Linked DNA regions of Homo sapiens. The protein of the gene in region 6 purifies or fractionates together with the protein of the main gene of each other region. This does not show direct contact. Each region holds a gene or a part of one and is shown on either strand. Other genes may lie near its edges. The genes, in order: MCM3AP, ALMS1, FKBP15, PPP1R12A, CLOCK and POC1A.

Evidence for each region.
Region 1: the proteins of POC1A (region 6) and MCM3AP purify together in Homo sapiens (co-immunoprecipitation; one large-scale study listed by IntAct). This does not show direct contact.
Region 2: the proteins of POC1A (region 6) and ALMS1 purify together in Homo sapiens (co-immunoprecipitation; one large-scale study listed by IntAct). This does not show direct contact.
Region 3: the proteins of POC1A (region 6) and FKBP15 purify together in Homo sapiens (affinity purification with mass spectrometry; one large-scale study listed by BioGRID and IntAct). This does not show direct contact.
Region 4: the proteins of POC1A (region 6) and PPP1R12A purify together in Homo sapiens (affinity purification with mass spectrometry; one large-scale study listed by BioGRID and IntAct). This does not show direct contact.
Region 5: the proteins of POC1A (region 6) and CLOCK purify together in Homo sapiens (co-immunoprecipitation; 2 studies listed by BioGRID and IntAct, with this or other methods). This does not show direct contact.

What each region holds. Positions count from the first base shown.
Region 1 is NC_000021.9:46,240,612-46,244,111, reverse strand, and holds part of MCM3AP (germinal-center associated nuclear protein), read left to right. Parts: intron 1-389; coding exon 390-647; intron 648-1,112; exon of another isoform or gene 1,113-1,180; coding exon 1,181-1,310; exon of another isoform or gene 1,311-3,094; coding exon 3,095-3,301; intron 3,302-3,500.
Region 2 is NC_000002.12:73,608,126-73,610,416, forward strand, and holds the end of ALMS1 (centrosome-associated protein ALMS1), read left to right. Parts: intron 1-349; coding exon 350-449; intron 450-1,442; coding exon 1,443-1,487; 3' UTR 1,488-1,791; downstream 1,792-2,291. UniProt on the Homo sapiens protein: Involved in PCM1-dependent intracellular transport. Required, directly or indirectly, for the localization of NCAPD2 to the proximal ends of centrioles.
Region 3 is NC_000009.12:113,169,278-113,172,777, forward strand, and holds part of FKBP15 (FK506-binding protein 15), read right to left. Parts: intron 2,430-3,500; coding exon 2,304-2,429; intron 1,353-2,303; coding exon 1,245-1,352; intron 666-1,244; coding exon 1-665. UniProt on the Homo sapiens protein: May be involved in the cytoskeletal organization of neuronal growth cones. Seems to be inactive as a PPIase. Involved in the transport of early endosomes at the level of transition between microfilament-based and microtubule-based movement.
Region 4 is NC_000012.12:79,925,098-79,928,597, reverse strand, and holds part of PPP1R12A (protein phosphatase 1 regulatory subunit 12A), read left to right. Parts: intron 1-3,500. UniProt on the Homo sapiens protein: Key regulator of protein phosphatase 1C (PPP1C). Mediates binding to myosin. As part of the PPP1C complex, involved in dephosphorylation of PLK1. Capable of inhibiting HIF1AN-dependent suppression of HIF1A activity.
Region 5 is NC_000004.12:55,456,410-55,459,909, reverse strand, and holds part of CLOCK (circadian locomoter output cycles protein kaput), read left to right. Parts: intron 1-648; coding exon 649-762; intron 763-899; coding exon 900-1,018; intron 1,019-3,500. UniProt on the Homo sapiens protein: Transcriptional activator which forms a core component of the circadian clock.
Region 6 is NC_000003.12:52,095,424-52,098,923, reverse strand, and holds part of POC1A (POC1 centriolar protein homolog A), read left to right. Parts: intron 1-2,211; coding exon 2,212-2,355; intron 2,356-3,500.

The DNA.
Region 1 (3,500 bases), on a different chromosome or scaffold from region 6:
TTGAAGGAACCCAAAGGGAAGCAAACCACTCAGCACAAGCCCTCGGTGCTCTGGTTAGGTTGGGGTTCCCCAAAATAAGCTAAGACTGCTTATACCAGACTCATCTGGGTGCTTGTTAAAATACAGATTTCCTAGGCACAACCACAGGCCTGTACAGTCAGAACTTCTGGGTAGAACTTGGCTAGCAACACTGTTAAGGGGGACTGTCTGCATCCCTCACCTAGACCCTGGGAGCAAGCTGCTCTTCCCCCTCAACAACTGTGGTTCTGCTGTGTTTAGAAAGCAGACTTCTCAACTTCACAGTTGCCTTCTCCTGAGAAAATGTTTTCATGTACATTTTCACCTGTATTTTGGCCAAACCTGTAACTAATGAGGCACTTTCTCCCCAGCCCCCTGGCTCCCCGTGTGCTCCATGGTTGTCCAGTACGCCTCCCAGATCCCCAGCTCACGCCAGACACAGCCTGTCCTCCAGTCCCAGGTGGAGAACCTGCTCCACAGAACCTACTGTAGGTGGAAGAGCAAGAGTCCCTCCCCAGTCCATGGGGCAGGCCCCTCGGTCATGGAGATCCCATGGGATGATCTTATCGCCTTGTGTATCAACCACAAGCTGAGAGACTGGACGCCCCCCCGGCTTCCTGTTACATCAGGTAATTAGAGCTTGATGCAATGGGATCAGCTCCTCACGAGACTTTCCTGGTCCAGTTTCTGCAAAGGAAGATGTTTAGTTGATGTTGCTGCTTTTCTTTTGGGTCTCTATCCTTCCTTTCCTTAGGACTTCCCTCTTCAAGTGAGTGACTTAAAAACATTGAGACAGGCTAGGAAGTTTCTGGTAGAGCCTGAACTCACCTCCCTGAAACAGGCCCCCTAGGATGGCTCTTAGAGAGGATTTTGTGGCTTTTGAGTAGTCATTACTGGCCCTGCCAGTCTCGATGTAAGCTTGTCTGGACTTTGAGTGATGCATGGACCCTGGGAGCCTATTTAACCCAAGTGTGGAAGTCACATAATTGTGTGACTTTAATCAAAGGTCTTGCACTTAAATCAGTGAATTTAAGCACATGCCACCTGTCGCTGTTTAAATATTATTTGTACCTGTTTTTGTTTTTTTGTGTGTGTTTTTTTTTTTTTTGAGACAGGGTTGGCCAGGCTGGCCTCTTTATCTGTTTTTGTATTGTTTTCTCAGAGGCGCTGAGTGAAGATGGTCAGATATGTGTGTATTTTTTTAAAAACGATTTGAAAAAATATGATGTTCCTTTGTCGTGGGAACAAGCCAGGTTGCAGACGCAGAAGGAGCTACAGCTGAGAGAGGGACGGTGAGGTTCATGTTCAGTATGTTTCTGTTGCTTGCTAAACTGTATTTTTCTTGCAAAGTAAATAGAAATTAACATCCTACATGCCAAATCCAGTCCACTGTGGGCAGACTGTGACAAATCCTCAAGGAACAGATCATTCCCATGCAGTAGAAACTATTCTAGAACAAAGTTAAAGCATCTCACTTCATTTATCAGGCATACCTGACCCTGAAATCATACCTAACCAGGAGAGTACAGCTGACATTTCATCTCACTTCCAAATTTGGTTCCAAAGCACAGTACCTAAAAAAGTTCACAAGTATGCTTTCTCCCAGGATAAACAATAACAGTGAAAATCTATTAATGTAATTTGTTGCCATAATAGAAAAATAAGTGGTAATTTTAGCAGGCGTTGAAATACGTTTCTTAAAATTTATACCTGTTCCTGATAAAATTTCTTTATTTTGGGTACTTTCTTTAGCTTGGGTTAAAAAAAAAAAAAGTCCTAACTTGATAAGGCTACCTAACATAAAACTACCAAAATAGAAAAAAAACATGCTTCTTGGTAGAATGTTAGGAACAGTGGAATCAGAACCAGCCTGTTGTCCCGACTATTATTCACTATTGTCCTGGAAATCCTGACCAGTACAGGGATGTGGGATAGACAGGCACAAATACTGAAAGGAAGGAGAAACTGTCATTTCCAGACAGTACAGTTGTCAGTCCAAGAAAAGTCAAGTCCATAGAACCATTCTCAGTTCAATAAGGTGATCAGATAGATAGATCCACAACATGTTAAAAAAAAAAAAATTCTCATTCACAACAATAAACCTGAACAGAAAGGGCACAGGATGGTGGAACTTTGCTGTTCCTTCTTGTTCCCCATAGAGATCCTTGAAGTACCTTCTCCAACTCCATGATACTCTAAAAACTGTTCATCTTCATAATAGGAGTGGAGCCTAATCCTTGGTCTCCTCACCTCCTGGTTTCCCGGAATGTCTTTCTCATTAACATATGAGTTCTCAGGGCCTGTATGTGCAAAGGAAACCTGAACCATTGAGGTTCAGACTAGGTTGTTGACAGGATACAATGCTGTGAAGATGTCAGTACTGGTAAGTTCTAAAATTCATCAGGATAAACAAATATGCATCAATTGCTGAGAAAGTTTTAAATAAGACTAACATGGTTTGCTTGGCCTGATACCAAGACATACAGTAAAGCTCCAGTACTTAAAACCATGTGGGGATGCCAGAGTAGATAAATGGATCAGAATAAAGAGTCAGAATATGTGACAAAAGTGTTAGGCCAAATTATTGAAATTAGTGGGGAAAAGACAAACATTGGCATGTGTTTAGAAAAAAATGTCAGATGCCTTCTCTCTCACCATTTGTAAACATTACTTCCAAATGTATCCAAGAGCTATCTATAAAAAACCTTGCCAATACTAGGGAAGAACAGAATCTGGAACCCTAGGGTGGGAAGCAAGACATGAAGCAGAGAAGCTCCAAAAACCTAGCTGCCTCTTGAGAGCAGAAGCTTCCAAGAGGAACAGGCAGTCTCAATGCCTCTGTGCATAAGGGTCCCTACAGTGCAGGGGCTGCCTTCCCTCTTTGCTCCACTCCCTGACTTGATGGAAGCTTGGAAGCAGGCATGGGGCCAGCATGAGCTGTTCCAGGAGGGCACATGTGTCTGAGGCACATGTTCTTACATGTTAATGCACATGTGCAAATGTATCTACATGCTTTACATGATGCTGTAGAAATATTTTCTCTTGACCATAAACATTTCAAATCATGTACTTACAGTTTGGCAATAAAGCCTTTTCATCCTTCTGCAAACAATTTTCCCATACCATTGCTTCACATGCACCGTAACTGGAAGAGGAGCACAGAGTGTGCTCAAGAGGGGAGGATTCCCAGCACAGAGGATCTGATGCGAGGAGCTTCTGCTGAGGAGCTCTTGGCGCAGTGTTTGTCGAGCAGTCTGCTGCTGGAGAAAGAAGAGAACAAGAGGTGAAGCCCACTTCCTTCTAATTCATGTGTGTTTAGTCTGCTTTATGCTGTGAGGGGAGACTGGTTATTGCTTGATTAATATAAGACAGCCAGGATGGAGAAGGGCAGGTGGATTATTAGCAACAGTTTTAGTGATGTAACTATTTAAAAGCTCTTTGAAGACAGAAGCAGTGCCCTAGATAGTATGTTTCTAACTGTT
Region 2 (2,291 bases), on a different chromosome or scaffold from region 6:
CGCTGTTCATTATCTTATATTGAAACAGTCCATTTTTGCATGTAGAGCAGAAAGTAGAAGTTCAGCTCTCCTTCATTTATCTCACTCCTTTCCCCCCTTTATCCCACTTCTTTCCACATGTAAGCACTATTAGGATTTTATTGTGTTTGTATTTATCTCCCCTTCCAGATTGTGAGCCCCGGGCTAGGGTTTTCTGTGCTGGAGTATCTAACGGGGCCCAGGGCCTTTCTGAGAGGGATGAGCTCCTGGAGAGTGGGAGGTATAGGGAGGGATGATGAGAGGAGATCTCATGACTCTGCACCCTGGTAACCTCCCCGATTTCTGTCCTTTCACTGGTGCCATTTCTAAGGATTTATGAGCAGCTTCCAGAAGTACAGAAAAAGAGAGAAGAAGAGAAGAGAAAATCAGAATATAAGTCATACCGGCTGCGAGCCCAGCTATATAAAAAGGTCAGTGGGTCCTCTGTCTAGAGTGGGATGGATCAGGTTTATTGGCGGAAAGAGAAATGGAGAAAACACGTTGCCTGTTGAGTGTGAAGTCAGAATGAACCGCATTTGAGGAATGAACTTAGAATGCACTGGACCAGTGTTGAAATTTGGAAGAAGGCATCTGTAATTAGACTTCAAATCAGGTTTAACTCCCCATCCATAATGGTGTAAGGCCCTTTCCATGCATTCGTTTGCAGTGAAACCAAATTTCACACACAGGAGTTCATTGACATATCATGGTAGAAATACCAGAATTATCAGGTTTCCATTCCAGAGTCCCAGGTGGTGATTTCATGCCCCTCATTGGTGAGTCAGATACCTTTAGAACTGTTAAACTGGAAAATGTGTAACTGCGGCATAAGAGTTGTCCACTTGGATGGTCAGAGGCCTCCAACTTGTCACCATGCCCTGCCCATTGTCCCAGTAGAGTCAGCGTTGCTGCAAGTCCAAGAACCTCACGGGGCAGGGTTGGTGTTACCAGTTAATTCTCTGAGAAACCAGACCGGCTCCTATGCCTGAAGGGCCATATACTTCACTGTAGTTGTTTCCTTCTCACCCTGTCAGTCACCAGACTGATGTGGGATGGGAGCTGCTTCTGGAGCAGGCCCCAGAACCCAGGCGGGTGCCTCAGGTGGAGGCCCCAGGCACCACACCACCTGTCTGGTGTGTCAGCATCGCAGGGCCAGGCCTCTCCTTATGCTACTGTATGTGGGAACTGATGGATTATCTGTGTCTCTATAGAAATAATAGATATTGATTACAGATCCTCTTTCCTGAACCTTTCGTGAAGTATTTTTTATATGACGACCATAGTTTCTGAAGCAGAGTAAAATGAACAAGATTTGAATAGGACCACACTGATTCTCCTTGGTGACATGGATGCAGGGAGGAGAGGCATCTGCCTCTGATGGCAGTAATATCTAACTTCTTTCCTGCCTTTCTTTTCTTCTACAGAGAGTGACCAATCAACTTCTGGGGAGAAAAGTTCCCTGGGACTGACACAAGTTTATTTTCCTCAGAGCCTTGGAATTCTATTTTATGAACCTAGAGAAGCAGAATCCTTACTTTTGTGAGTCTGGTTGAATAAAGCTTATTCTTTGTCCATGTGTATTTTAGAAATAGTAACTTCTAAAGAGTCTGGAACAAAGTGGTGATTAAAATTCCTAATGGTTTGGGAGCAATACTTTCTGCATAGTGGCCTTGTCCAATGGCCTGTGTGTTACAATGATATGATCATTTCTCAAGAATAAGTCCCTTTTTGTATGTGTTTTTATACTTTTAGAAAATAAAAACTTTAGATTAACTCATAGTAAACAATTCTTTCCCATCTGGAGAGATGCAAGGAGCTATGCATTGTCTCCACCGAGGTGTCTAAATGCATCAGTTGAGGGAAATGGGCTCTTAGAAGGAAATGTAGCCTGTATCTTTAGAAACACAATGTGCTGTAGTGGGAGCACTGTTGTGGGCTTTGAGGAGACGGTGTCTGGTTAGATGCCCACCGGGTGCACCCAGAGACTGCAGCAGGAGAGGTGTCTTGGGTCCAGAGCCTCCTTTCAGCCCCAGTCCAGCTCCCCCAGGGACTCTCTGTGTAGGCTGGGGAGAAAGGCCACTAGCCTTGGCTGATGGATCTTCCTCCACCCACACTCGGTTTTGGGATTAAAGCCTCAGACCATTTATCATTACACGTGAAACCAACACTTACAACATAAAGGACAACTTGTGAAAAAGATGAGTCAATGAATGAGATAAAGCATTTAACCCAGTAACTGGATCAGAATGTAACAGGATTTTTTTTTTTTTTTT
Region 3 (3,500 bases), on a different chromosome or scaffold from region 6:
CCTGCCTCTGTGCTTGACAGCTCCTTGTGGGGACCGGTGGAGCTAGTGACATCATCTTTCTTGAGCTGTGGAGGCTGAGGCTCTCCTGGGCTTTCAGGCCCTAAGGCCAGTGGGTCCCCCTCCTCGGGGTCTGAAGTCAGGGACAGTCTTGTGGAGCTTTCTTGTAGTGGGCCATCTGGTGCTACTTCCCTGACACAGACCTTTCCTGATGGGTTGTCGGGCTTAGCTGCCATTGGGCTGGCAGCAAGTGACTCCTCACACTCAGAGTCCATGGATACAGGGCCTAGGGGCTCAGGTGGAATTGAAGTCGGGGGCCCTAGAACTCTGTGGGATGGGATGCAAGACAGTTCGGGTGGAAGGGAACCATCTTTTATCTCTGAGAGTGCCTCAGCTTCTGAGTCCCCTTTCCTTCTGTGTCCATCCTGGGAAGTGGTGAGGGCCTGAGGAGGCAACGGGACAGCTTCCTCGACCACCTGCTCTGAGGGCACCATGGGGGACTCTGGCCTCTCCCTATTCAGGGGTGCTTGAGGCTGCCCAGAACTGGCTGAGGCTGACTGCTCCTGGGAAGGTCTTCGTGGCCGCTCTTCTGCTTTTTCTTCTTCTTCTTCACTGCTGCTCTCTTCCTTCTCTTGCTCCTGTTGGTTTAACAGCTGAAGAGTCACCATCTATTCAAAAGCCAAGGAAGAGATGGTCACTGAAAGGAACACAGTAGCCACTCCTAATTCTTATTAACACTACTGGTCATGTAGTTTAAATGACTTTGCTTCTTTCCTGTTAAAAGAGGCTGACTATATCTGTCAAGTCACTCCAGGCATCCTAATTACTGAGGAACAGTCCTGAATAATTTTCTTTTTTTTTTCTTTGGAGACAGGGTCTTGCTCTGTTATCCAGGCTGGAGTGCAGTTGGGGGCAATCATGGCTCACTGTAGTCTTGAACTCCTGGGCTCAAGTGATTCTCCTGCCTCAGCCTCCCAAGTAGCTGGGACTACAGGCACGTGCCACCATACCCGGCTAATTTTTAAATTTTTAATTTTAGTAGAGACAAAGTCTCATTATGTTGCCCAAGCTGGTCTCAAGCTCCTGGCCTCAAGCAGTCCTCCCACCTTGGCCTCCCAAAATGCTGGGATTACAAGCATAAGCCACTGTGCCAGCTTTGAACAATTTTTTATTCATGATCCCTTAGAAGGTACTTAAGCAACAAAATGCCCAATACGATGAAACAAATGACAGCTGGCTGGCTGTACCTTGATCGTATTCATGATGGTTCCCAGAATGGTCCTGCCATTGTAAGATTCCTCCAGCTCAAACTCTCTCCGTAAGGACTGGAACACCTGGTTCATGATCTTCTTGACCTGTGTGAACATCAAAACACATGCTGTCAAAATCAAGTCACTAAAGGATGCATTAAATTCCAGAGAGGTGTATGGAAGGCCAAAATGAAGCCATCTTAGATCTCTACACTGGGATACTGCTGGTCATAAGCAGAGACACTGAAGGCTGTCACTGTGGAGAGGATGATATTAAATAATGAGCAGCACTTTGACAGAAGGGCTAGTCATGAGAGTTACCTATCAAGGGCAGGCAAGCTGTGGTCTGTGTGCCCAAGACTGCTTAAAGACCATTTCTTGATGTCCCCCTCCCACTGTGAGCACCACTAGGAGCTGCCATAGGCTCTAAGGGTCAGAGGCCAGTGGATGCTGGGCACACTCCCCAAGCCCCATTCTTCTTCTGTGGTTAGAGGCCCTTCCTATACCTGTCAAAACCTCAGAAAGATAGGGTTCTTTTGGGTTTGCCACTTAATATGTAAGTATGTATTTGTTTGTTTTCCCACTAGGCTGTAAGCTCCTTAAACTCAAGAACCAAATCTGGGCCGGGCATGGTGGCTCATGCCTGTAATCCCAGCACTTTGGGAGGCTGAGGCAGGCGGATCACAAGGTCAAGAGACCGAGACCATCCTGGCCAACATGGTGAAACCCTGTCTCTACTAAAAATACAAAAATTAGCTGGGTGTGGTGGCGCGTGCCTGTAGTCCCAGCTACTCAGGCGGCTGCGGCAGGAGAATCGCTTGAACCTGGGAGGCGGAGGTTGCAGTGAGCCAAGATCACATCACTGCACTCTAGCCTGGTGACAAAGTGAGACTCCGTCTCAAACAAACAAACACCAAATCTGGTTCATTTTAAAGTCATCAGACAAGTAAAACATCACTAAAGTTAGAAAAAGAGCTATTAACACAACATACTGGCCATGTTCTTTCTGAATGCTTGATATAAATGGCTTGCTTCTCATTTGAAATACCAGCTCACCTTCTCTGAGGGGTCAGATGCAGCAGCTTCAACCCCAGACATCTGGGACTTGTTCTTCTCTAGTTCCTTGATGTGCTGTTCATTTTGCTTGGTGAGAGCTGTGATTTGGGCCTGGAGGGCTAAACACTGCAAAACAAACAGACTGTGGCTGTGGCCTCAGGAACCAGGTGAAGGTCAGAAAACCCAAGGGGAGGAGAACCACCCAAACATCAAGTCTCTTTTTTTTTTTTTTGCATATAATAAAAAGACAATTTTATTTCAAATTCTTTTTTTTTATTATTATTATACTTTAAGTTCTAGGGCACATGTGCACAATGTGCAGGTTTGATGCATAGGTATACATGTGCCATGTTGGTGTGCTGCACCCATCAACTCATCATTTACATTAGGTATTTCTCCTAATGCTATCCCTCCCCCCGTCCCCCAACCCCCGACAGGCCCCGGTGTGTGATGTTCCCCGCCCTGTGTCCAAGTGTTCTCACTGATCAATTCCCACCTATGAGTGAGAACATGCAGTGTTTGGTTTTCTGTCCTTGTGATAGTTTGCTGGGAGTGATGGTTTCCAGCTTCAACCATGTCCCTGCAAAGGACATGAACTCATCCTTTTTTATGGCTGCATAGTATTCCATGGTGTATATGTGCCACATTTTCTTAATCCAGTCTATCACTGATGGACATTTGGGTTGGTTCCAAGTCTTTGCTATTGTGAATAGTGCCACAATAAACATACATGTGCATGTGTCTTTATAGTAGCATGATTTATAATCCTTTAGGTATATAACCAGTAATGGGATTGCTGGGTCAAATGGTAATTCTAGTTCTAGATCCTTAAGGAATCGCCACACTGTCTTCCACAATGGTTGAACTAATTTACACTCCCACCAACAGTGTAAAAGCGTTCCTATTTCTCCACATCCTCTCCAGAATCTCTAAACATCAAGTCTTAACCTCGCCTAGGTCTGCTGGTGTCCACTCCCTCAGCCCCCACCCACGACCCTCTGCCTCAGAGAGTTCTATCTCCTCATCATTCGACTTCAACGCAAAACTTCACTTTCTCTTTCCCAAGAAGGTTGCTTGCCTTGTTCCCAATCAGGTAAAAAATATAATGAAAAAAGAGCAGGAGGGTAGGTAATAACTAGTCATTTAGACATAAACATTCAGCATTAACAGCAACCCATTTGTCATTCATCTGCAAGA
Region 4 (3,500 bases), on a different chromosome or scaffold from region 6:
AAATTTGTGTCTAAAAGAATGTGCAGTGTAAAATATTTCTCTGCATAGTTTTCTTTTTAGAAAAGCTGTAACACTTTATGCTCATGCCTTTCAAAAGTTTTTATTGAAATCATCCTAAATCCATTTTTAAAAACCTACCTAAACAAACAAATAAAACCCTCCCAACCCCAAACTGGCCCCTCACTTCCTACAAATAAGTGGGCAACCCTAGCCATATATGGGGTGTGCTGGTAGGGCACCAGTGCCCACACTGCTGCTGTTCTAATGCTTTTTCTGTAGTTGCTGCCTCTGTGCTTCCTGGCAACACTTTTGTGGTCTGACTTTGAGGTGTCATAACCAAGACCATCTTTCATGTGCCTCAGCTACAGTATGATTGCAAGCTGTGACTGAGCATTTTCTATAGCCAGGTAGAAACACTGGATGGAATAGAGGAAGTGTTTTTCATCATCCATTTGTTATTACCACATTTAAAAATTACAGTTCACATAAGAAAAGTGTTTTAAAAATCTTATTAGATGATTTTTAAAAGAAAACTATTTAAAAACCTTTTAATAGGGGGAGGCATAAAACGTTGTTTTGTTACTACCATAACATGTTACTTCTTGACACTATATGAAGTTGCTATTTTCATTGCCTCTGCCTGCAAAAAATTGCCATCTTTTACTCCACCCTTCTTTTGAAAGTTTGTGGGGCTCCACAATAAGGTTGAGAAGATGATGAGGTATTGGCATTTTGGTATACCTCTTTGAAAGGTTGAAGAACTCCAACAATTATAAGTTTATTCTCAGTTGGAGTCAGATATGTAGTAGCCATGACTTAATCAGTGTTTTATTGAGGAGCAGTGCTTTTCCAAACAATAGTTTAATTTTCACAACATGCTTTTTCACTTGCTCAAAGTTAACAAGAAAATAAATGGCAGAGCTGGAATTCTTATGCAGGTCTGTTTGATGCCGAAACTCAAACTTTACCCTATGCCAGGTATCTTCTTTGAAGTCTGAAGAAGAAAATATTCTTAAATCTTTTCATCATTATGGTGGTGTTTAGTAATTGGAGGTTTCTCTGTAAATTAGCTGAAAATCAAGTGAAACACACATATAATTTTTTTCTTCATCCACATTTGTTTTAGCTAGCCCATACTTTTAAGACCTTTCTATGGTAATTGAAGTGCAGTAGTACTGTATCTAAATTAATCTCAGAATTCGAAATTGTCCTAAATTTTAGGAAGTGCCAAGATTATTTTTGACTTACCATTATGTGCAGAATATATCAGCAGCAACAAGAAACACTCCTTTTTTCAGGACATAGAATTTAATTTTTAACTACCTTTATTTTTCTTTACCCTAATAGCAATTTATATCGTTTCAGTTGTTGGGTGTGTGTGTGGGTGTGGTGTGTGTATGTGTGTTTTGAGACAGGGTGACAGACTCTGTCACCATGGCTGGAGTGCAGTGGCATGAACATAGTTCACTGTAGCCTTCCTGGGCTCAAGTGATCCTCCCACCTCAGCCTCCCGATCAGCTGGGAATACAGGCATGTGCCACCACTTCCAGCTAATTTTTTTTTTTCTTTGACAGAGTCTCCCCGTGTTGCCCAAGCTAGTCTCAAACTTCTGGGCCCAAGTGATCCTCCCACCTCAGCCTCCCAAAGTGCTGGGATTACAGGCGTGAGCCACTGCACTTAGCCTGTTTTAGTTTTTTTTAATCATTTACAGTAAATTTTTTATACATACGTACATGTACATATTTGATTCTTTTTAGAGACAAATTGTAGGAAACTTCATACCATGGATACTGGGGGTGGGGGGGAAGAAGTCCCTTATATACCCTTAAGGTAGGGACTTTGATTCTTTTTTTCTTTAAATCTCCTTTTGTATCGGCATTTTGTTTTAGTAGGTACACAATAAATATTTAATGATTAAAAAAAATTGGACACAATGTAAACTAATATTTTGAAGAGCAGAATTCATAGAATATTAAATAATTGGGTAAGTGTAACACACTGACAAACTTTTAAAATGTCCTAATAAAAAAGCTTATATCAACCACTTACTTTTATAATACTTACAATGTAAAGGTAGCCATTATTACAATCAAAACATTTATTAGGTGGCTGGGTATGGTGGCTCACGCCTGTAGTCCTAGCACTTTGGGAGGCCTAGGCAGGCGGATCACCTGAGCTCAGGAATTTGAGATCAACCTGGCCAACATGGCAAAACCCCATCTCTACTAAAAATACAAAATAAAAATTAGCCAGGCATGGTGGCGCATGCCTGTAATCCCAGCTACTCAGGAGGCTGAGGCACGAGAATCGCCTGAACCCAAGAGGCAGAGGTTGGAGTGAACTGAGATCATGCCTCTTCACTCCAGCCTGGGCGACAGAGCGAGATTCTGTCTTAAAGAAAAAAATTATTGGGATGTTAGATTTATTTTTGAAATGAGATCTATTACTGATTATCAATAGACGCTTCAGTTTATGTAACTTAGTTTAAAAATTCTTTAAACAAATCCTTGAGTGTTCATTTAGAAAAGTAATCTCTAGGCTGGATGCAGTGGCTCACACCTGTAATCCCAGCACTTTGAGAAGCCAAGGCAAGAGACTTGATCCCAGAAGTTCAAGACCAGCCTGGGCAATATAGGGAGACGGTGTCTCTACCAATAAAGAGAAAAGAAAAGAAAGAAAAAGAAAAGAAATCTCTAGCATGGTAATATTAGAAATAATGCATATTTTCTGTTATTTTACTGATACTTTTTTTTTCCAAATAACATTTTTACTATGGCTCCCTCTATGTCAGTATTTTCTGACCTTATTAGTGTTTTGGTTGTTTATCTTTGCATTGTTATGCTGGCTAACCATAAAAAGACACGCTTGAGTTCTGTGTTACTGCCCTAAGTGTGCTTGCTGCTCAACTCAAATGCTCTTTCATGGGAGGAGACATTCCACATTGTCATGTGTTGTATAGGCATTTCTGAAATGACATTCAGTAGAAACCATGGAAAGAAGTGAAAGCATTCCTCAGCTGTCACTTTTTTAGTAGTCTATTTAAATGTTATGTATATTAAGTGAGATATTCTGCAGAGAGAGCTTCACTTAATAAAAAGCTTTACTTTAACTTGATGATTTAACTCACATTTGAGCTGAAATTACTATTTTCTTAGTTTAACATGACCTCTAACAATAAAATCATAAGATTGTACAAAGCTCATGTCATTTTCTTGAATACTGCATAGTGCAGAGGAGAATACATTTTGTGAGATGTCACTTGGCACCCTCTTAAAGATTAATAACCATGTGGGAAAGTATATTTTCATGGACTGTTACACACACACACACACACACGTACACGTATGCACTCAACCTTTACTTGTAATAAACATCCCAAATTATATATATTTTATTAGCCTTCAAAATTGTTTTAGATGGTTATAAACTTATTTGAATATTTATATTCTTGCATGGAACACTTCTAGAGCTTTTCTGTTGGAGTTTCAGCTCCAGAACAT
Region 5 (3,500 bases), on a different chromosome or scaffold from region 6:
CAGGAGGATTGCTTGAGCCTAGAAGCTTGCAACCAGCCTGGGCAACATAGTGAGACCCCATTTCTATAAAAAATTAAAAATTAGCCAGGCATGGTGGCTCACACCTGTAGTCTTGCGTACTTGGGAGGCTGAGGCAGGGGGCTCACTTGAGCCCAGGAGTTCAATGCCACAGTGAGCAGTGATCATGCCACTGCACTCCAGCCTGGGTGACAAATCAAGACCCTGTCTCAAAAAAAAGAAGAAAGTAAGGACCCAAAGGTGTAGATGCTAAAGGAATAAGGAACAGTGATGTGGCCCGGGTCCTAGAGAAAATAGGAAAGACTATAAATGGTAGAGATGGAAGGATTAGCTTTAGAATGTGAAGCAAAACTTTCCTTTGAAAGTGAGTAAAGAATGAAAAGGATGAGTAGCTAAAAATAGGGAAACATTAAGTTGTTTGCACCAGAAAATCTATTTTTTCTATTAAAGACAAAGTGAGATCCTCTCCTGAAGGTGCTCTACTTTTATGAACTAAATGTCATTGACGACTTCTGTTGGGGAAAATAATGGTTGTAAACTTACACAACTTTTATGATCTTACTTTATGTGGTATATCAATCATTGTTTTATATCAGAAATATGTGATTTTTAAAATCTCTTTTATTTCAGCAAAAAATCAGTTAGAATTCTGTTGTCACATGCTGCGAGGAACAATAGACCCAAAGGAGCCATCTACCTATGAATATGTAAAATTTATAGGAAATTTCAAATCTTTAAACAGTGGTGAGTTAAAATGCTTCTCTCACAATGTGTTTTAACTTGTTATTTTTCTGTGCTCTTAAAGACATAGATGTTTGAATATCAGTGACAATTAGGTTTTGCTGGCATAACTGATGATACATATTTCCCTATTGTTTTAGTATCCTCTTCAGCACACAATGGTTTTGAAGGAACTATACAACGCACACATAGGCCATCTTATGAAGATAGAGTTTGTTTTGTAGCTACTGTCAGGTTAGCTACACCTCAGTTCATCAAGGTATGTTTTTAATTTTATTTCCCAAAGGGGATTTCAGTTCATATGCTGAGAGCTGCCTGAAACTTCCTGCAGACATTGAGGTGGAATGGCTATGAGTCATTAAATATGCATGATAATATTTTTGAAACGATGAGTTATCAAGACACTCATTAAATTGTATAACTAATTTTTTAGTATATATCCTTTGCAGTTAACCAGTGATTATTATATATCAATATTGCCCTACTTTTGTGGAAGATTTTAGGATCCTTTTGTGTGTTGTTCATTATCTCTATTAAAAGGGAAAGTCCAAAAATCTAGGTTTTTGGAATCTTTATTTTTAGAAGGTAACTTTTAAATTTTTATTTGAAATGTACAAGTGGCTCTTTGCCACATATAACTTACCTTTTCAAATGTAAAATTAGGTATTTTATTTTTATTTCCTGGACCCAACAAACAGATGACAAGTAGGGAAGTGGGAAAGTGAAAGAGTTAACCACTAGAAACTGACTGGAAAGAGGCAGCCAGGCTAAGATTTAAAATTTCGGCGGGGCCAGGCGAGGTGACTCATGCCTGTAATCCCAGCACTTTGGGAGAGCAAGGCGAGAGGATTGCCTGAGCCCAGTAGTTTGAGACCAGCCTGGGCAACGTGACAAGACCCCATCTCTACAAAAAATACAAAAAATTAGCCAGGCATGGTGTTACACACCTGTGGTCTCAGTTACTCAGGAGGCTGAGGCAGGAGGATCATTTGAGCCCAGGAGGTCGAGGCTGCAGTGAACTGTGTTTGCATTTTATTTTGAGACAGAGTCTGACTCTGTCTCAAATAAATTTGGGGGGACATCATAGTATAGGACAAAGTACTGAATTAATAGAAGATCTTAAGCCAGTCTTGCTTGGTTTGTTTTGATCTTATGAAATAATAGTTGTTAACATTTGAGTGCTTACTACATGCTGTGTATTTTATATGCATTATCTCATTAATTCTTATGACAACCCTATAAGTTAGATGCCATTACGATCCCTCATTTTACATTATAAGGAAACAGGCTTAGGGAAGTTAAGTGACTTGCCCAAAGTCTCAGCTATTAGTGATGAAACTGGGACTTGATTCTATTAATTAATAATTGTTTTTTTCTCAAAGCCCAAGCTCTCAACTATTACAGAGTGCTGCAGGTCATTCAGGGACACAGAGGCAGGATGGAATACATTGTTTAGTATGACTAGAGTCTAGGGTTAGTGTGTGGAGGGGGAAGAGATAGTGGGAGGTAAGGCTAGAAAAGTAATCAGAAACCAGAAATAAAATTTGTTTCTTTCTTGTTTATTTCTCCATGCTGAAGAGAGTTTAGCACAAGGAACCACTGAAGGTTTTTTAGCAGGGAAGTCATATAATATTTGAGTATTGGTAAGGTAATTGTGGCCCTAGAAGAGAAGATGAGTTGAAGGACAGGGAGACTGGTGAACACTGTAGCAAATCAGTGATGGCAGGGGTCTAAACCAATGCACTCAAGATGGATGAGATAGAATTGATTTTTAAAATACTTAGATGAAATGGAAAAGATTTAGTAATGGCCACTTAGATGATGAAAGGTAAAAATGAAAGAGTATGTTTTTTTAACTATCAGATTTCTAGACACTGGCCACTACACATGTATAGAATAATACGGAAAATTGTGTGATTGGGTGTGAGGAGTAAAGCAGTTAGTTTATTTTAGGACATATTGAATTTGAGATGTATGAGGACATTCAGATATTTGGAAATATGGAACTGTAATTCAGGAGAGAGGTCTGAATTTTGAATAAGCGTTTATAGGCATGTGTGAATGGAAAATGTGTAGAGTGAGAAGTACCCACCCAAAAGCTTGCATCTAAAGGTTATTTATTACCACATTCTTTAGTACTGGAAAATTAAAATATATTAACTTGTTTAGAAGGGCCTGCATTTTGGCTTATGCCTAGAATCCCAGCACTTTGGGAGGCTGTGGTGGGCAGGTTGCTTGAGCCCAGGAGTTGAAGACCAGCCTAGACAACATAGACCCCCCACCTCTACAAATAAAAATACAAAAATTAGCCGGGCGTGGTGGTGCATCCCTATAGTCCCAGCTACTTGGGAAGCTGAGGCAGGAGGATCGCTTGAGCCTAGGATGTTGAGGCTGCAGTGAACTGAGATCACACCACTGTACTTCAGGCTGAGTGACAGAGTGAGACCCTGTGTCAAACAAAGAAATAGGTAAATATATACATACATAGAAACAACTAACTTGTTTAGGAAAAGTTTATCTAGTAATGACTATTTATTTATGTATTTATTTAACCTCCACCTCCTGGGTTCAAGTGATCCTGCTGCCTCAGCCTGCCGAATAGCTGGGATTACAGGTGCCCGCCACCGTGCCCTGCTATTTTTTGTATTTTTAGTAGAAATCGGGTTTCACCATGTTGGCCAGGCTGGTCTCAAACTCCTGACCTAAGTGATTTGCCCACCTCAGCCTCCCAAAGTGCTGGG
Region 6 (3,500 bases):
CTCTTTGAGCCCAAGGGTCCATATCTGAAAAATAAGGTTAATAATGCCTATTGGGAAGGGCCATCATAAGGATGAAGTGAGGTTACACGTATTAAGTGAGGTGACATTAAATGAGGGCACACAGTGGATGGCAAGTAAACCATGGCGATTGCTGGACTGGTGGAGTGTTAAGTGCTGTGGTGTTTTCTGATGGGAGTGGGCAAGGAGGCAGGGAAATGGCTCAGGGCAGCACTAGAGTTTGAGGCTGGTTACCTTTAGACAGTCGTTTTCTGACTGAGCCTTAGTTCTCTTTATTGTCAAATGGAGACAGCCCATGAAAGTGTGGTATAGGTGGGAAAACATGGTGGCTGCCGCAACCCTCTGTTGTAAAGGCCACCTCTCCAGCTTGGAGTGCCATGGCCGCTGTCTTTAATACTCCCTTGGAGCTGGCTCAGCTTTGGCTCATCCAGGAGGGTTTCTATTGCTAAAGTCAGTGGTACTCACCCTGCCTCCCTGCAGCATCCACTGTGCTTCCAGAGGCTGAGCTCAGCACTGTCCATTTCTGGGCCATTCTGCAGAAACTCACATTTTCCATTCCCTCCTTCCTAAGCAGCCAGCAGCACCAGACTCTGGCCCATTCCATGACAATGCTGGCTGTGGGACAGAAGAGTTCCCTGCTCACACCCTTCCTCCAGTGGAAGAGTGTGTGTCTGCACTGCTAGGGGGTCCTCTGGAAGGAGTGGGCACAGCACTGAACATTTCTTAAGAAAGGCCTGCTGGTAGCTTCAGATAAGCACCTCTCACAGCCCAGCCGTTTGAAGGACTGGCCCAGTCTTCATCCCTATTTTATAGATGAGGAAATGGAGGCCCAGAGCTGGTCAGTGACTGTCTGAGTCACCATTCCTCACCACTGCACTCTGCTGTGTCTCCTGACAGAACTGCCTTAGTCTGGGGGCCACTGTGGTAGGCTGAAGTCTCTCCTGGCAAGGCTGGTGGACTTCTGAAATTTCCTTTTGGGATGGGCTTCTGGGTAAGCATTGAGATCTGAAGCACGTTGATTCCTGGAGGACTGGAAGAGACCCAGCCCTGATGGCCGAAGTCTTAGAAATGGCCACGGAAGTGGCCGACATGCTGATGATAGGTGTGTGGACACGGTGCTGCTCATGCTGTCAAGAACATCCCTCTGGCTCATGTCTCACATTCAAGTTCTCCTGTAGCTACCATGAGGGCCAGCATTTTTCCAAGTTCAAATCAGCATGCCCTTGAAAGTTTGTGATCTATGAGAATAGAATACTTACCTAATAAAGGAAAACATGCAGGTAGGGTCCATGTGCTGAACCACATTCCCACAGGAACAAGTCCACAGAGGAACTGCAGGCTCTAAGACCAGCCCTGCCCTTGGACATCCTTGGCTCCAGCATCCCGCCCACTGAACATGTGCACAGCACTTCTTCGGTCCACAGAAGCCTTTGTGCATAAGGCAAGGAGCTGACTTTGCTGAATTTAGGGGCTGAAGGGCCTTACGCAGAAACACTAAGCCCCTCACCTCCTGGAGTCCTATCTGAAGCAGCCCAGGGGTGCCTTTCCTGTGGAGTCTGATTCCTGCCAGCCATGTGCCAGCCTGGGACATGCACACAGAAATCTTTGTTTTTCCAGGGGATCTGGGCCAGGGTGGGGTTGGAACACCCCTCTCCCCGCCACACACACACTTCCACCAAGTTCTGGGCCACAGCTTCTTGGGCCTGGGAAAGGCATTTGTGAAGCCTGGCACACCCCCATGTTGAAGGGTGGGGAATTAGAGTTGAGCTGACCAGGAAGAGGAGGGACTTCAGGCCCAGGCCAGGCTTCAGCATCTCTGGACTCACCTGGATGCCTGCTGGTGGGTGCCAGCTGCTTGAAGATATGGGAGGCAGCTAGCTTCCCTGAGGGGCTCCAAGAGCAGGCTGAGGCCACTCACTGGCCTGCCTACCTGCCCTCCTCCCCAGGCCCCTTCCTGCCTGGATCACAAGGCATTCTGATTCCACTCCCCACTTAAGGCCTCTGCCTGGAAAGGTATGTGTGTGGACCCAGATGTGGGAACACCGCCACGCTGCTGTTTCTTACTGACACTTGGAGCTTACCTTCTCAAATTTGCTGGTGGTTTTCCCTTTCATCCTTTGGAGGGGCTATTCCTCTCACAGTATTTCTTCAAGCACTGGATAGACTGAGGAACTTTTTTCTTTCTGTCTTTAGCCAGAAGTGGACTTCCCTGTCCCCCCAGGCAGAGGCAGGAGTGTGGAGTCTGTGCAGAGCCAGCCCCAGGAGCCCGTGAGTGTGCCCCAGACACTGACTAGCACGCTGGAGCACATTGTGGGCCAGCTGGATGTCCTCACTCAGGTAGGCCACACTGTGGGTTCACCCGTCATCCCGTCATCTGCACTTGGTCCCGCATTTGGACCGTTTGAAGTTGGACAACAGGTGCTGGATTTTTAAAAACATAATTATAACGGACCTGTTTTCCAGTCCATATTAATGACATTGCAGAGCCTTCCCGGGGATCCTGGCTCTTGGAGCCATTCAAGCCCTGGCCAGACCACTAGACTCCAAAATCCCCAATGCTGGGTACTACTGGAGTGTGCTCACCTAGAGCTGGCCTGGGCCACTGAAGAGCTTTGAAAGAAACACTGTGTTTGTTTATTCCTCCCACTCTTTGCTGGATGGGCACTGCAGGGGCATGCCAGGGAACTGAGTAGTGAGTCAGGGCTTCTGAGAACCTAGGCTATGAGTTTGAGCCTGGACCTTTCCTTATCCTCTGTGCAACCTTGGGGAAATCCCTTTAGTTCACCAAGCCCTGGTATGTTTATCTGTAATGTGCTGGTGGTTGTGGGCTCTGCCTGCCACATTCATGGTGAGAATTAAGGGAGATGAATCTGGGAAATGTTTGGCCCATGCCTGGCCCTAGGTAGCTGCTCAATAAATGTTAGTTGTGGCCCTGACCACCCTCGTCACTGAGATGGATATGGGCCCTGCCCTCTGGAGCGTAGGTTGGCAGCCATAACACAGGCTCGTAGTGTAGCAGTTTCAGTAAGAGCAAAATCCCTTGACAAGAGGTGGTGGCCAGCAATAGGGGCATGCTTGGCAGGGCCATTTCACCCGAGGGAGGAAGAGAGGTCCTGGCTGCCTGTGGCTCTGGAGAGGCCATGGGCACGTCCAGGGAATGAGTGAAGCTCCAGGTGGCTGTCATGTGGATATGTGGTCTTGGGGTGGGGGGCAAGGCAGGATTTAGAGGTTCCCCAATTCCTCATCTCCTTGGCTCTTGAGGCCAGGCTGGGACTCTGCAGATCCTCCTCTACCATGCCAGCACATGGGTAGAGCGAGGCTGCAAGAGGGACACATGTGGCCCACGAGGAAAAGAGGTGTTAAAGCCAGGGGGTGGGGGATGGGGAAGCAAGGAAGAGTGGTCTCCAGTCCAGCTCACATGAAGGACGCAAAGGACCCTTGATGTCACTAACGGAAATGGAGCTGAGATGGCATGGTATCCT